Linked DNA regions of Homo sapiens. The protein of the gene in region 1 interacts with the protein of each later gene in a biochemical or structural test. Each region holds a gene or a part of one and is shown in the gene's direction. Other genes may lie near its edges.

What was found. Proteins that work in one complex are often made in the same cells at the same time.
Region 2: the proteins of SYNJ2BP (region 1) and ACVR2A form a complex in vitro, tested with the Homo sapiens proteins (2 studies listed by BioGRID and IntAct, with this or other methods).

Annotation. Positions count from the first base shown.
Region 1 is NC_000014.9:70,386,091-70,393,117, reverse strand, and holds part of SYNJ2BP (synaptojanin-2-binding protein), read left to right. Parts: intron 1-4,511; coding exon 4,512-4,648; intron 4,649-7,027. Other genes in the region: SYNJ2BP-COX16 protein, read left to right, coding at 4,512-4,648. UniProt on the Homo sapiens protein: Regulates endocytosis of activin type 2 receptor kinases through the Ral/RALBP1-dependent pathway and may be involved in suppression of activin-induced signal transduction.
Region 2 is NC_000002.12:147,918,029-147,925,055, forward strand, and holds part of ACVR2A (activin receptor type-2A isoform 1 precursor), read left to right. Parts: intron 1-418; coding exon 419-564; intron 565-2,201; coding exon 2,202-2,316; intron 2,317-4,944; coding exon 4,945-5,083; intron 5,084-7,027. UniProt on the Homo sapiens protein: On ligand binding, forms a receptor complex consisting of two type II and two type I transmembrane serine/threonine kinases.

The DNA of each region.
Region 1 (7,027 bases):
TTTCCTTGTAAATTTGTTTAAGTTCCTTGTAGATTCTGGATATTAGCCCTTTGTCAGATGGATAGATTGCAAAAATTTTCTCCCATTTTGTAGGTTACCTGTCCACTCTGATGATAGTTTCTTTTGCTGAGCAAAAGCTCTTTAATTGATCCCATTTGTCAATTTTGGCTTTTGTGGCAATTGCTTTTGGGATATGTGGTCACCCTACTTATGCAAGATTTTTCTGGGCCATAGCCAATGATTAGCAAGATACGTATTGAATAGCCTTTCCCTTTCTGGTGGTTTCCAACTGACATCTGTTTCAATTGGTTGGTCCATATGCTGGATGATTGCCGCAGAGTTTAGATATCACACTTGCTAGAAACTACTCTTAAGGGGGATTTCTAGGTCACATGCCATAGACGTACTTAATAAGTTTGAGTTCCTGTTTATAGATGGGTGGAATTTTAAAATCTGTCTTCCCATTTTTTAGGAGATTTTGCATTTCTACTGTATATTTATTCATTCTTTCTCTGTCAAACTATCTAGTTTGGAGCTTTAGCAGCCATTAGTTTATTGACAACTACTCCTAGCGCCTTATCCCAATAGAGCAACTACTATGTAGTTTATGAAGATTTTTTTTCGTATTTTATGTTATTGGCCCCTAACACTTACCCATTGATGTAGACAGGGCAGAATTTATAATTCTTATTTTTGTAGAAAAGGAAGCTGAGGATCAGAGGTAAACTGACTTGCTTCAGTCCACATATCTGGTAAGTTATAAACTTAGAACCAAGTCTTCTGACTTTGATTTGCTTCTACAATATCTAAAAGGGACAGGGAAAAGGATAAATTTGGGTTTGTGGTTAAAATAGGAACTGTCCAGGTTAGCTTTATATCTTCCTCAGAGCATAACGTAATGCCTAACACATAGTAAATGTTGATTTGCTTCTGCAATATCTTAAAGGGACAGGAAAAAGGAAAAACTCCAGTTTGTGATCAAAGCAGGGAGTGTGCAGTTTAACTTTATGTCTTCCTCAGATGATAACACAACATCTTACACATAAGATTCAATCAGTAATTTTTACTGAGCAAGTGAACTGGGGATTATGTAGGTATCCGTACAGCCCAGGTTCAGTTGGTCATGCCACTACTTAATGCTGTGGTGACTCTTTTATTGCAGCAATGCTTTGGCTTATAGATACACCCAGTTCTGTAAATATTCTGGCTGAACAAAGGGCTTCAGGTCAGTCCAGGAGTTCTCATGTTAAATAGTTTGGTTCATTTACAACAGAAGTAGCAACGGGTTATAAATGTACCTATATAATATGACTTCGATGGGGTGTGTAGTAGACGGCTCTTTTTTGTTTATGGTAAATCTCGGTAAAATTTCTTCTACTCTTCCTTTTTTTTCTACAGTTAGCTTTGAATAACCAGTAGCAAAGTCCTTTCTGTTGCTAACTACTACATTGCATTCAGCTGCTTAACATTTGCTTCCTGTTCCCAAGATCACCAGAGGCAACTGTAGCATTTGATGAGGGTGTTGGATTTCATCAAAAGATTTTTCTACATAGTTTGTTCCAGCTTGGGAGAGGTGGGTTGGCCTTGGCCCCCTTGTTCAAAGCTGTCACAGTTTTGAAGTCATTTCAAAACCTTCGATAATCTTGTTCCATCTGCTTTTCCACCTTATCTTACATTTCTGTACCTTCTCCAATACTTCCTACCTTCTATGATACAAATTGAGGGTGCTCTAAGAAAATCATTTAGTAAGTTAAGCTACTATTTTTAATACCCAGCCCTTCAAGGAAGTTAAAATAGCATCTTCCAGAAGTAGCACCTTCTTATTTATTTTTTTAGAGAATAGGGTCTTGCTATGTTGCCCAGCCAGGTCACAAACTCCAGAAGTAGCACTTTCTATTATGTATATTATTTTAGAGAATAAATTCTTTCTATTATCTAGCTGCAGAGATTTTATGCACAAGGTATGCTTTTTATGTATTTTATTTTATTTTTGAGATGGGGGTCTCACTCTGTCACCCTGGCTGGAGTGCAGTGACACAATCTTGGCTCACTGCAACCTCTGCCTCCCAGGGTCAAATGATCCTCCTACCTCAGCCTCCCAATGTTGGTCATGTGCCACCACGCGTGTCTAATTTTTTGTATTTTTGGTAGAGACGGGGTTTCACCACGTTGCCCAGGCTGGTCTCGAACTCCTGAGCTCAAGTGATCCACCCACCTTGGCCTCCCAAAGTGCTGGGATTATAGGCGTGAGCCACCATGCCTGGCTAAGGTATGCTTTTTAACTTAAATGTTTCCTGTTGTGTCTTTGTTTGGTCATGTTTTTCTTTAAATTACAAATTGATTTGCTAGTGCTTATGTTAATACTGTGAGCTTCAGGTGTAAGCTTTTCTCCCACCAATGGGGAGAACTTTCAGAAAGCCCGCATATGTCTCTTTTTTATTTTTTTTTTTGAGATGGAGTCTTGCTCTGTCGCCCAGGCTGGAGTGCAGTGATGCAATCTCAGCTCACTGCAAACTCCACCTCCCGGGTTCACGCCATTCTCCTGCCTCAGCCTCCCGAGTAGCTGGGACTACAGGTGCCTGCCACCATGCCCAGGTGATTTTTTGTATTTTTAGTAGAGACAGGGTTTCACTGTGTTAGCCAAGATGGTCTCGATCTCCTGACCTTGTGATCCACCTGCCTTGGCCTCCCAAAGTGCTGGGATTACAGTCGTGAGCCACCGCGCCCGGCCCCCCGCATATGTCTCTTTAAGTATCTTTTCTATTGAGAACAGTGTAGGCTGGTGATTATGGTTATTCCTTCCAATTGCACCGCTAGATTTTTGGTTTGTTTCCAAACTATCTCCTTTGTCTTACACTGTGCCCCTGAATTCTACCAGTAGCTGACATTAAGAAAGCCCTAGAGAAGTTCCTTTTTCCTTTTTATTTTTTTATGCATAGGTAAAATCCTTTCCTAACAACGGTTTCTGTACAGTAAAATCCTTTCCAGCACTTAGTCATTGGTCCATAGAAATAGCACTTTGGTACTCAGTTTTCTTTCCTTCTCTTTTTTCTTTCTTTTAATATTTTGTTTTACTGTGGTAGGAACACTTAACGTGAGATCTACTCCGAACAGATTTTTCAGTGTATGATATAGTATTATCTGTAGGCACAATGTTGTACAGCAGATCTCTAGAACTTAATTCATCTTGCATAACTAAAATTATATGCATTTAAAATAGTTAAACTCATAAAAACAAATATTAGAATGGTGGTTTCCAAGGACTTAGGGAAGAGGAACTGGGGAGTTGCTAATCAACGAGTAGTCAGTTTTTTCTACAGTGAATAAAAGTTGTCAATTACTATGCCCAAGTATAGATTGAGTAGCCCAAATCCAAAAATCTGAAATTTGAAATGCTTCCAACTCCAAAATTTTTTAAGGGCCAACATGACGTTCAAAGGAAATGCTCATTGAAGCATTGCAGATTTCAGATTTTTGGATTAGGGATATTCAACTGGTAAGTTTAATTCAAATATTCCAAAATCCCCCAAATTCAAAATTCAAAACACATTTGGTCCTAAGCATTTTGGATAAGGGATACTCAACCTATATATGGTTGTACTTGAAGTAGCGAAGGAAGGGAGAGTAAATTTGGTGATTTAGTCCTACCATGAAATAGCAGTTACCTTTCTGGTTCTGAGGTTTCTCTGCCAATACCTACACCACTGCCTCCACCACCAAAATGGAAAAAAAAAAAAAAAAAAAGAAACTCTCAAGAGATTTTTCTAAAGCACTATCATACATAAATTCTCCAGAAGCTTGGGAGAAGGAAAGTGTGGAAGGGAAGGTATGGTTAGAAATCTCTCACACTAAATTAGGAACAGTTCATTTGATAATTGGTAAAAATGCATAGCTTCTTTTGATGAACACAGCTAACCCTGCTGTAGTAATATCAGGAATGTCAGGAATTGGGTCCTTTGAATACCATCAACAGGATCAAAACTAAATGTGAGTAGAAGAACTTACATCTAGGCTGGGCATGGTGGCTCACACCTGTAATCCTAGAACTTTGGGAGGCCAAGGCAATAGTGATTGCTTGAGGCCAGGAGCTCATAACCAGCCTGGGCAACTGAGCTATGAACTCCTGAGTAGCTGGGATTACAGGCGCCCACCACTATGCCCACTAGCAAGACTCTGAAAAAAAAAAAAAAAGAAAAAGAAGAACGAACTTAGAGTAATCACCATTATTCTTTAAGTTCTATATAGATCTTTCTTTATATATTGAACAAAACAGGTGGATCACTGTGTTTATATTTTCAGTCGTGCCTCATTTGAGTGAGCAACTCAATACTCTTGATATGGCTGACCTTGTTCATGACCATTCACCAGCTCCATCACAGGCTGACTCGCCAGCATCTCCTCTCCATCAGCCTTTCCTCCCCAGTAGGCTTTCCCTCCCTTTCTCTTCATCTTCTCTAATCTCTTTCTTTCTTCTTCACCCCCATCTTTTTACTCCTCCATGATTTTCTCAGGGCTGGGCTTCAACATCGTCGGTGGGACAGATCAGCAGTATGTCTCCAACGACAGTGGCATCTACGTCAGCCGCATCAAAGAAAATGGGGCTGCGGCCCTGGATGGGCGGCTCCAGGAGGGTGATAAGATCCTTTCGGTGAGAATGGGCTTCGGCCTCCTTCACTGTCCTTTGCTCCCTAAGCCCTAGGTCCTACCCCTCCCTATCCCTTTTCCTTGAAAAGATTTGGATCTGGAAATATACAGGTTGTAGAGTTGAATGGGAACAACTTTGATCAGTCATTCTTTCCAACCCTATCATTGAGCATGGAGGGCAACATTATGCTCACCTGATAGATGAGAATGTGAAGCCCAGAATGTGAAGTTACTTGTTCAAAAAGCACAAGGCAGGAAGCAGCGAGGGACTCATATGGGGAAAAGAGATTTAAAATCCACAAATTTTGTCTTTCATCCATTACTTTATCACCTCCTTTTGTTGATTAAAACACTAATGTGTATCTTCCTTTGGGGGAATGTCAGCCCTTATAATTGGATTTAACATCACAAAACAGAAAGAAGGAAGGTTGGAGTTAAGTGTCCTTTTCAGACTCAGAGCCCTTTTTCACCCATTATTAACATGAAAATTTGGAATGCAGTTGATTTGGGTACCTGTCCGCTGTGTTCCCATTTCATCCTGCTAATGTCTCTACGAAGACATACTACATGGTAATTATTAATCTTACTATTTTCCAGAATATTTCCTCAAGGGCAGTGAAAAGATCCTTTTTTTTTTTTTTTTGAGATAGATTCTTGCTCTGTCACCCAGGCTGGAGTGCAGGGTCGTAATCTTGGCTCACCGCAACCTCTGCCTCCCGGGTTCAAGCGATTCTCCTGCCTCAGCCTCCTGAGTAGTTGGGACTACAGGCCCCTGCCACTACGCCCAGCTAATTTTTTATATTTTTAGTATAGACAGGGTTTCACCATGTTGGCTAGGCTGGTCTCGAACTCCTGACCTCATGATTCGCCCACCTCAGCCTCCCAAAGTGCTGGGATTACAGGCGTGAGCCACCGGGCCCGGCCTAAGATCTTTTTTTAACCTTTTGAATCATAGCACAGTGCTTAATAATGTTTAAGAAATGAACAAGTTAAGAAATTCAGGCAAACCTAAAAAGGTTGACTGATAAATATGGGCCCACAGACCTCAGGTCTTAAAATAAATTAGAACAAGCATACAGTCAAAACTATTAAAATGCAAAATATAACTCTGGCCCTATTGTTCATTTCTCTACCTTACCATGGGCCACAGTAATCCTATGATACTATCAGTTTGCTGGGGGATAAGGGAGTATAGTTGGAGATAATTATTCTGTAGAATTTCTTTTTTTATTAATCTTCAGGACTAGTGAAAAATGGCCAGCTTATTACTTGTATGGAAACAGTGCAGATGATTGGTATAAAGAATGGAAAAATGCTGAGGGGGTGAGATATTATCTAGAATATTCTTGGGAGAGCTGGCTTCAAAGGGCTAGACTTAAATAAAAGGAAATTGAAATAGGATAGGGCTTCGGAGCCCTATCCTCTCCAGATGGGCCATAAGCCCATGGTCCGAAGAGGAGAAAACTATTCCCTGTTTTCTTTTAGAACTGAATAGGGCAAGATGGCCACGTTGGGAAAACGTTGAAATAAATGAATGAAGTACAGACAGGAGAAGTCTTGATTGGCAGAATTAAGTATTGGTCTCAGATACATGATTTTGAACCTACCTCTATAATGAGTTAGCTTCATCCCTTAAAAATTTTTTGCTATATAGTTTCATTTGAATTTTCCCTTTCACATTACTTCTCATGCAGTTCAGGTGATTAGTGATTAAAGGTCATATGTGTGAAATCTCTTGCTCTTCTTAGTTGTCAGCTTATTGAACACCTCTCTGCCATGAAGCCCATTTGGTAGCAGAACCTGAAGGCAGAGATACAAAGGAAAAGAGAGAGAGAACATCCACCTTTTCTTCATTTGGCATCTGAGTATTTGAGTGATCAGGCTCAGCAGTATGGTTCTGAATGCCTCTTCAGGAAGACTGTGACTCCACTTAGTCCCCCAAAAAGAAAGAAAATCAGAACAAGTAGCTATTAGAGCCACCTAAATTAGCTCAAGAATGTCTAAGCATGTGTCCTCGCTGATCCATAATATAAATATAGTATCAAGCACTGCAGTATTTCAGTCCTTCTCATTGACTATTCTGCCTCTCTTCAGTCCATTAAGCTTCTCCTAGACCCTGTTTATTAATCAGTGAGATGGAGACAGTGATAATATACCTGTCTTCTCAAAAGGATAGTGAAAAGTTTAGAAGCAGATTATTTCCTTTAGCTCCCAAGGAAAGACATTCATCCAATATGAATCAACTTGGCAGTGGTACTGTAAGGAATGCTGAGAGTGGGTTGTTAAAATAAAGGTGTAGCATTTAGTTAGAATCTATGCAGCTTAATATTTTGACACATAAATTACATTATCCTCAGAACACTGGAACCTGGGCTCTGTGGAT
Region 2 (7,027 bases), on another chromosome or scaffold:
TAGAGGAATATTCTACATATTAGTTGTTATTTTATGTTGTTATTTTGTGTTCTGCTAGTCCCATGATATAACAACTCTATAGTCAGGATATTTTAACTTTTAAAATATTTTCTAGAACCTTAGATTTTCAACTAGTCTTTAAAAAAAAAAAAAAACAAACTTGTCTTATAGATTGGTGGAAGTTGACTATTCTTGTAACAAAAGTTTAAAGCTCTGGTATTTCCTTCTGGTCAAATGTTTATTAATGTGAAATGGAAGGAAATTTGAACCATTTGAACCATTCCAGAAAGATTGTTTCTTGGATATTATTTTTCCCTGAAAGGGAAACTCACAACCTCTTATAGGTAAAAAGAAAAGTCTCCTTATACATATGGCCTTTGTCAAGAACATAAGTTTCTTTTTTTCCCTCTTTTTTTAGGGTTCACTATCAGACTTTCTTAAGGCTAATGTGGTCTCTTGGAATGAACTGTGTCATATTGCAGAAACCATGGCTAGAGGATTGGCATATTTACATGAGGATATACCTGGCCTAAAAGATGGCCACAAACCTGCCATATCTCACAGGTAGACTAAATTTATATTGTTTTCCCAGATAATTGAGTATATATTTACTAAACTTTTAAGCCCCTGGGTAAATTTTAATTTTTCCTTTGTTATGCAATCATGCTTTACAAGACAGTCAGTTTTCATTTGTTTTTTAAAATTAGCTTTGAGATTGGCCAGGAAGTATTTTGGATAATGTATATGTTAACATTATTGGTAAAGTTTAATGATCTACTTCATCTCATTTCTGAAAGCATGATTGAAAATAAACTATATTTTCTCGATCTCAAAGGAAAAAGACATTTGTTTTACCTCAAAACATGATTTATCAATAGGGATTATTATCCAAGGGCATGTAATGAAGGAGAGACTTTGAATGTCTTCCTTGCTTGTTTTTTGAATGACCTTATCTGTACCCTGAGCCAAGTCTTAAAGGGAGGCATCACTTAAAACAGTTGTCCAGTGAAGAAATACTACTTAGACCCAACAGTTGTCATGCCCGCAAAAGGAAAAATGATTGTGTCTTAAACATGGAATTCAGTTTGCCATGTATTTAATTTTCTTGAACGTGGGATTCAATTTGTTGTCTTGTGTTCCATTTAAAGATGGTTGTTTGAAAAGTAGGCATTAACTGATTCACAGAACAGATACTTAGCTGAGTGCCACCAGGCGATGTTTTAGGTTGCTGGGAGGCATTATTGTAAGTCAGCCTCTAATTTAGGTTCTGATTTTGCAAACTTTAAATGACGTCTACCTCAGAAATAACTCTTCTCACTTTCTTACATGCAGTCTATTGGCCTCGTCTTCGATTTTCCCTTGCCCTACCTGGTCACATAGGGAATTAATCCTTAAGGACCCCCAAAGTTATTAAGGGCCTGAAAGTCTTTTGAAACTAAGATCGATTAGCTTTTATAGCATTTGGGAGTGTCTGCTTGTGCTTTCAGTATCCCATTATTGGTCTATATGTCTGCACATAAATTTAACCACTAGTCATTGGCATAGATGTATTTAACTAGGGTATAGTAATCTCTAGGATGAGCCAGTTGAGACAGGTGTGTAGAAGAGGATATCTTACTGCCTTAAAACTGTTACCCTTTTCAGAACACCAGGATCTAGCTAGAGCAGTGTATGTTTATGGTAAAAAGTTTCTGTTATTCATTCCATAAGATGCTTTTCTACAACCAGGTGGAAGAATATAAGAACCTCTATAATAAGGGATTATTCTAAAATGTAGGTCTCTACCAATAAGCAGAAGGCCCCAATTCAGCTATTTTTTAAAAGTTTCTTCATTTTGGTTTAAAATTTCTGTTTCTATGGGAGTTTGCAAATCAGAACTCTGAGATATTAACAGTAGTTTTATGATTGGTAGGTGGGTGACATAGATAACATATCTTTTTGGTATGGCAGATTTTTATATAACTGCTTTATAGGTAGGATTCCTTCTTATTGTCCATGTTATGAATAGGGGTTTGTCACCGTGCTCTTGTGTTTAAGGCTGCATGGGGCTCTGAGCTTTGTTTGTCTCACTTTCTCTGCATTTCATAATTTTAAGTAACTATTTTTTCATAGTGTACATATTCCCCCTTTTCTGCTTTCAATAAAAAATTTAAAAAGGTAACTAGTTTAAACTTAATTTGAATACTCTTTTTATTTGCAAGGGACATCAAAAGTAAAAATGTGCTGTTGAAAAACAACCTGACAGCTTGCATTGCTGACTTTGGGTTGGCCTTAAAATTTGAGGCTGGCAAGTCTGCAGGCGATACCCATGGACAGGTAAGGATGATGATTATAAAATGTAAGAAAAAATAAACTTGTTCCATATTTTCTTAGAATGGCATGTCAGGACTGAATTAGTCTAAAATTGTTGTGGTGTTTAAATCAGCATCTAATAGAGTTATCAAAGTTTCTGAGGAAGACATTTTCATATGATGGTAGAGGACTCAGGTGGTTTAGATCAAGCACTTCGTAAAGCAACCCTTAGACACACGTCATAGGATTCTTTTTGAAAAATTGATCAAAGAATAATCCACCACCTTTTAACAGACCTCATTCTTAGGGAATTCTTCGTATGAACTCCGTAGTTTTAGTCTGTTAGTTCTTTCACCATCTTAAGAAGAGTGGAAGAATAATTAGTCACTGTCCTTACTACAGTGTATTAAGATTTCCTGTCCATTTTCCCATGCAATAATAGTTTATTGCTTCTTGTTGTTTATTGCTTCATTAATTTCTTTAATCAACTTGATGGCTTTTCTCCAAATTCTCTCCAGAGTTCAGAGCACTTGTAAACCCCTGAATTAGGTAACTCTTCACACCTCTGTATATATCCATATGCACAGAAATCTTAGTAATGGGAACCTCTAGGAAGGCCAAAAGGGAAAAGAACATTATCCATACAGTTTATTCTCAGAAACTTTGAGGCTGGAAAAGATGTTTTCATTCCTGCAAGATCACCTTTTATTTTTATTTATTTATTTATTTTTGAGACAGAGTCTCGCTCTGTCACCCAGGCTGGAGTGCAGTGGCATGATCTTGGCTCACTGCAGCCTCTGCCTTCCAAGTTCAAGTGATTCTCCTGGCTCAGCTTCCTGAGTAGCTGGGATTACACACATGCACCACCATGCCCAGCCTAATGTTTGTATTTTTAATGGAGATGGGGTTTCACCAAGTTGGCCAGGCTTGTATCGAGCTCCTGACCTCAAGTGATCCTCCCACCTCGGCCTCCCAAAGTGCTGGGATTATAGGCGTGAGCCACCACGCCCAGCCAAGATCACCTTTTAATCAGGGAAACCAGTTCAACCTAAAAGGTGACATTTTCTACAAAGCTAAATGGTTCAGGCCTTCGACATTATCATTTCTTCATCTTTCATATCATGTAAATTATTTGGCCAACTAATTCTTAGGTTTCTTTTCCCCAGCATATCCTATTGGTTCCTGAGGACACGTTTTTAATGTCATGGCACCACCAATTTTGGCAGTATTGACTAACTATTTAAGAATGTAGTTTGGGGTAATGGTCAGTAGCCATATAGCTCTAGAAAAGTTGACTGCAAATGTGTATGGGAATGGAGGCAATTTTGTGGAGAATACTACCAAGATTGTGTAGGAAGCCTGAGGACAAACTTCTAAGCTAATTGAATGATAGACTATCATAAGACTAAATTCTGGGAACATATTCTTAATTTGGTACCTCATAAGCCCTCCCTCATTTTTTGAGAAAAAAAATTTCTGACTCATTCATGTCATATTTTTAACTCCTTCACAACTGGGTTTTATGATTAGTTAAAAATTATTGGCTTACAGTAATGACTCCTTGACTTTAGATTTCATGGACCAGAAAATTTCAGAAATATTTGGAGGGACTTGCATGTTATTGCACATTTTATATAGTACAAAGAACACATATAAAAGAGGGAACATTTTATGTCAACATGGTAAATAAACCATAATCTTACAATAAAAGAGGTAGGTACCTTGGATGGCATACATTTACCTGTAAGAGAAAAGTAGGCTTTAGGGAAACATTCACTGATAGCACAATTAAAATAATTATTCTGAGTAGTAAATTTTTTAAAAGTAGAGCCACTTTTCCCTTTAATGTGTTCTCCTTGAACTTTAGTCTTAGTGATCTGTCTTTATTCTTAAAAAAAATCTTTACATGTATATTTGCATAAATTGCCCAACTTTTAGTCTAGAGTAGAGATTATAGCCACCTAAGGATGGAGCGTTATGGACGTACCAATATCTAGACTACTCTCTAGTTCGAATACATCGCAAGTATGTTGTGATGTACCCAGCTATCTCACAAATATTTTTAAGCATTCATATATGAATGTTGTCAAGCACCAACCAAAGCTAGCTGTACTAGCTTAGTAACCATAGTTACAGTACTAAGAAATACCAAATTGTTGGGGACAGTTATAAATAAAGGACTCCAAGACAGAAGAATTTATGAATAAACAAATACATAGATTTTGTACAGATAGAACTTTTTAACATCAGTCTGTCCTTTACTTAGCTAATTCTTTTTATAACATTTTATTAGTTTTTTTAATACAGAGAAAAGACCTCAAAAAAAGTTTTTTTTTTAAAGCTACATTTCAAACAGTATGCAAAGGTACAGTTGAAAAGTATGCAGCATCCTTCTCCCAGCTGACAATTGGTTCAGTTTCTTGTGATTACATCCAGAAAGGGGAACATAAAAACTTCTAAGTCTGTACCAGCATAATGTCTGTTGATATATTTTTTAAGTATACGCAGAAAGGATCTTTCTATTTATACGCTATAGTGTGTATACCTTACCCTGGTAATAGACCACATTTGGTTTTGATTCATCTTACAAAATCATATGTTAGTTCATAAAGTTAATGAATGAGTACTCTTTGCTTTTAACATCTTTTTCAGGTTGGTACCCGGAGGTACATGGCTCCAGAGGTATTAGAGGGTGCTATAAACTTCCAAAGGGATGCATTTTTGAGGATAGATATGTATGCCATGGGATTAGTCCTATGGGAACTGGCTTCTCGCTGTACTGCTGCAGATGGTAAGGGAAAAAAATATTTTTAAAAAAGATATATATGCCTACCACACATATATGAAAAGGGATGATACACTCCAAGGTAATATTTTAAAGTACAGTTTTTTTTTAATTGACTCCAAGAGATGGTAGAGAATTCAGGAGGCAGGGGAGCAGTGGGTGGGGTAGGAGAGGAAAGGAATTGCTATGTATTGATCCTTTACCATTACTAGCTATGTTGCTGGACACTTCACATACCTTAAGGTTATTTCCTAAAACGGTTTCAGAGGTAGTTATTATGCTTTACATATGAGGAAATTGAGATGCAGAGAAATTAAGTAGTTTGCCTACTTTAGCCTCAAACTGGTGAATGATGAAACCTAGATTTGAAACTCTGATCCAGACATAGGGAGAGGTCTGCTTTAAGGTCATATGGGTCCTGCCCCCCAGGTTAAAGGGTTTCTATTACTTGTTCTTGTTATTGAAGTCCATGTTCAAGTCTTATAGATATTTGCTTTTATTTATTTATTTTTCTGGGTAAATTTTCAGACGATATTTCCAGTGTGACAGAACTATTTTAGTGTTTCAAGCACTGTCTTTAGTACTCCTTCATAAGGTCTTTACTCTGTCTTCAAGTATGTTGCAGCATTTTTTGTTTTGAATAATATAAGGCAAACTTGCCGACTGCTAAACTCCTAAACAGATGTAAATGAGCTTGATCTGTTTCTTAAGTTCTAATTTATAATTGCCTAAAAACTTCCTGTGATTGTCAAAGACCATAGAAGAAATTGTGAATATTTTAAGTTATAACCAATGTAACCTATGTTACTAACAATATTTTATTTTCTGAGTACTGTAATAGGCTCTCGTTGTAGGACAGACTGCCACTGGAATATGAAATTCAATATAGGGTACTATTAAAGGGAATTTAATAGAGTGTTCAGAAATGGGCATTCTTCCAGGATTGAGGGATTGGCTTGGGAGTCAATGCCAAACCTAAGAAAAGTTGAAGCAATTTTGGAATAATTTCAGAAGTCTTTAGGAAGAAGCGTTAAGAACGCAGAGTGTTTTGACTCTAAGAGGAATGACATTTATGATGTGCATTTATGGAAGCAGAAGTAGGTTAGATGGCAGATGTTATAGGAAAATATATTTTATAAGAACTTTATTAATATGAACTCTCCATAACAAATCATTGGATTAAGTAATTTAGGAGACACAAGACCTTATTCTCAAGTAATATACAGTTTAGTTAGGGCAATAAAATATATCCTGGACAATTAACTCTAGAGTAAGTTAAGTGTGAGTTGTCTGGCCCATTCCCCAGTACATAGGTATTCAATAAATGTTTCTGGGTTAGTGCAATACTTAAGAAATACAAGCATGTGTTTTAGGAGTTTAGGGGAGAAATTGCTTTGTTTATGGGGAAGAGAGGTTTCAGAGAAGTTCTTTTGGAAAAAGAAAAGGCTAGATACTGACTTTTCTTAAATGCCATGAAATAATTTCAGAGTCAGGCATTTCTGACTCTTAAGTCAGAACCCAATTGTTAAGTCAGAAATTGGGGTAGAGAGGATAGTGTGAGCATTGATTGCTAAAGTAGGTGCTTTCACGTGTGTTGATGGTTACTTGTTTGTTAAATGAAGTAATTCTCAAACTTTAATGTGTCATACCAGATTCTTAGGAATCTTGTTAAAATTTAGATTCTGACTCAGTAGGTCTGGGTTGAAGCCTGAGAGTCTACATTTCTTAAAAGCTAAGCTACCAGTTGACGGCAGTGTTGCTGGCCTGTACACCACATAAGTGTTGAATAGACACCTTAGAATGTCGGTACTTTGTCACTGGAAGTACTCAAGCAGAGACCAACTGTCCAGCCATAGATAATTCTTATATTTGAAGAGGGTTAAGTTAGATGACCCCTTTATGATTCATTGTATTCTACCCAGGAGTATTTAGTGCATTTCAAGAGCTTCA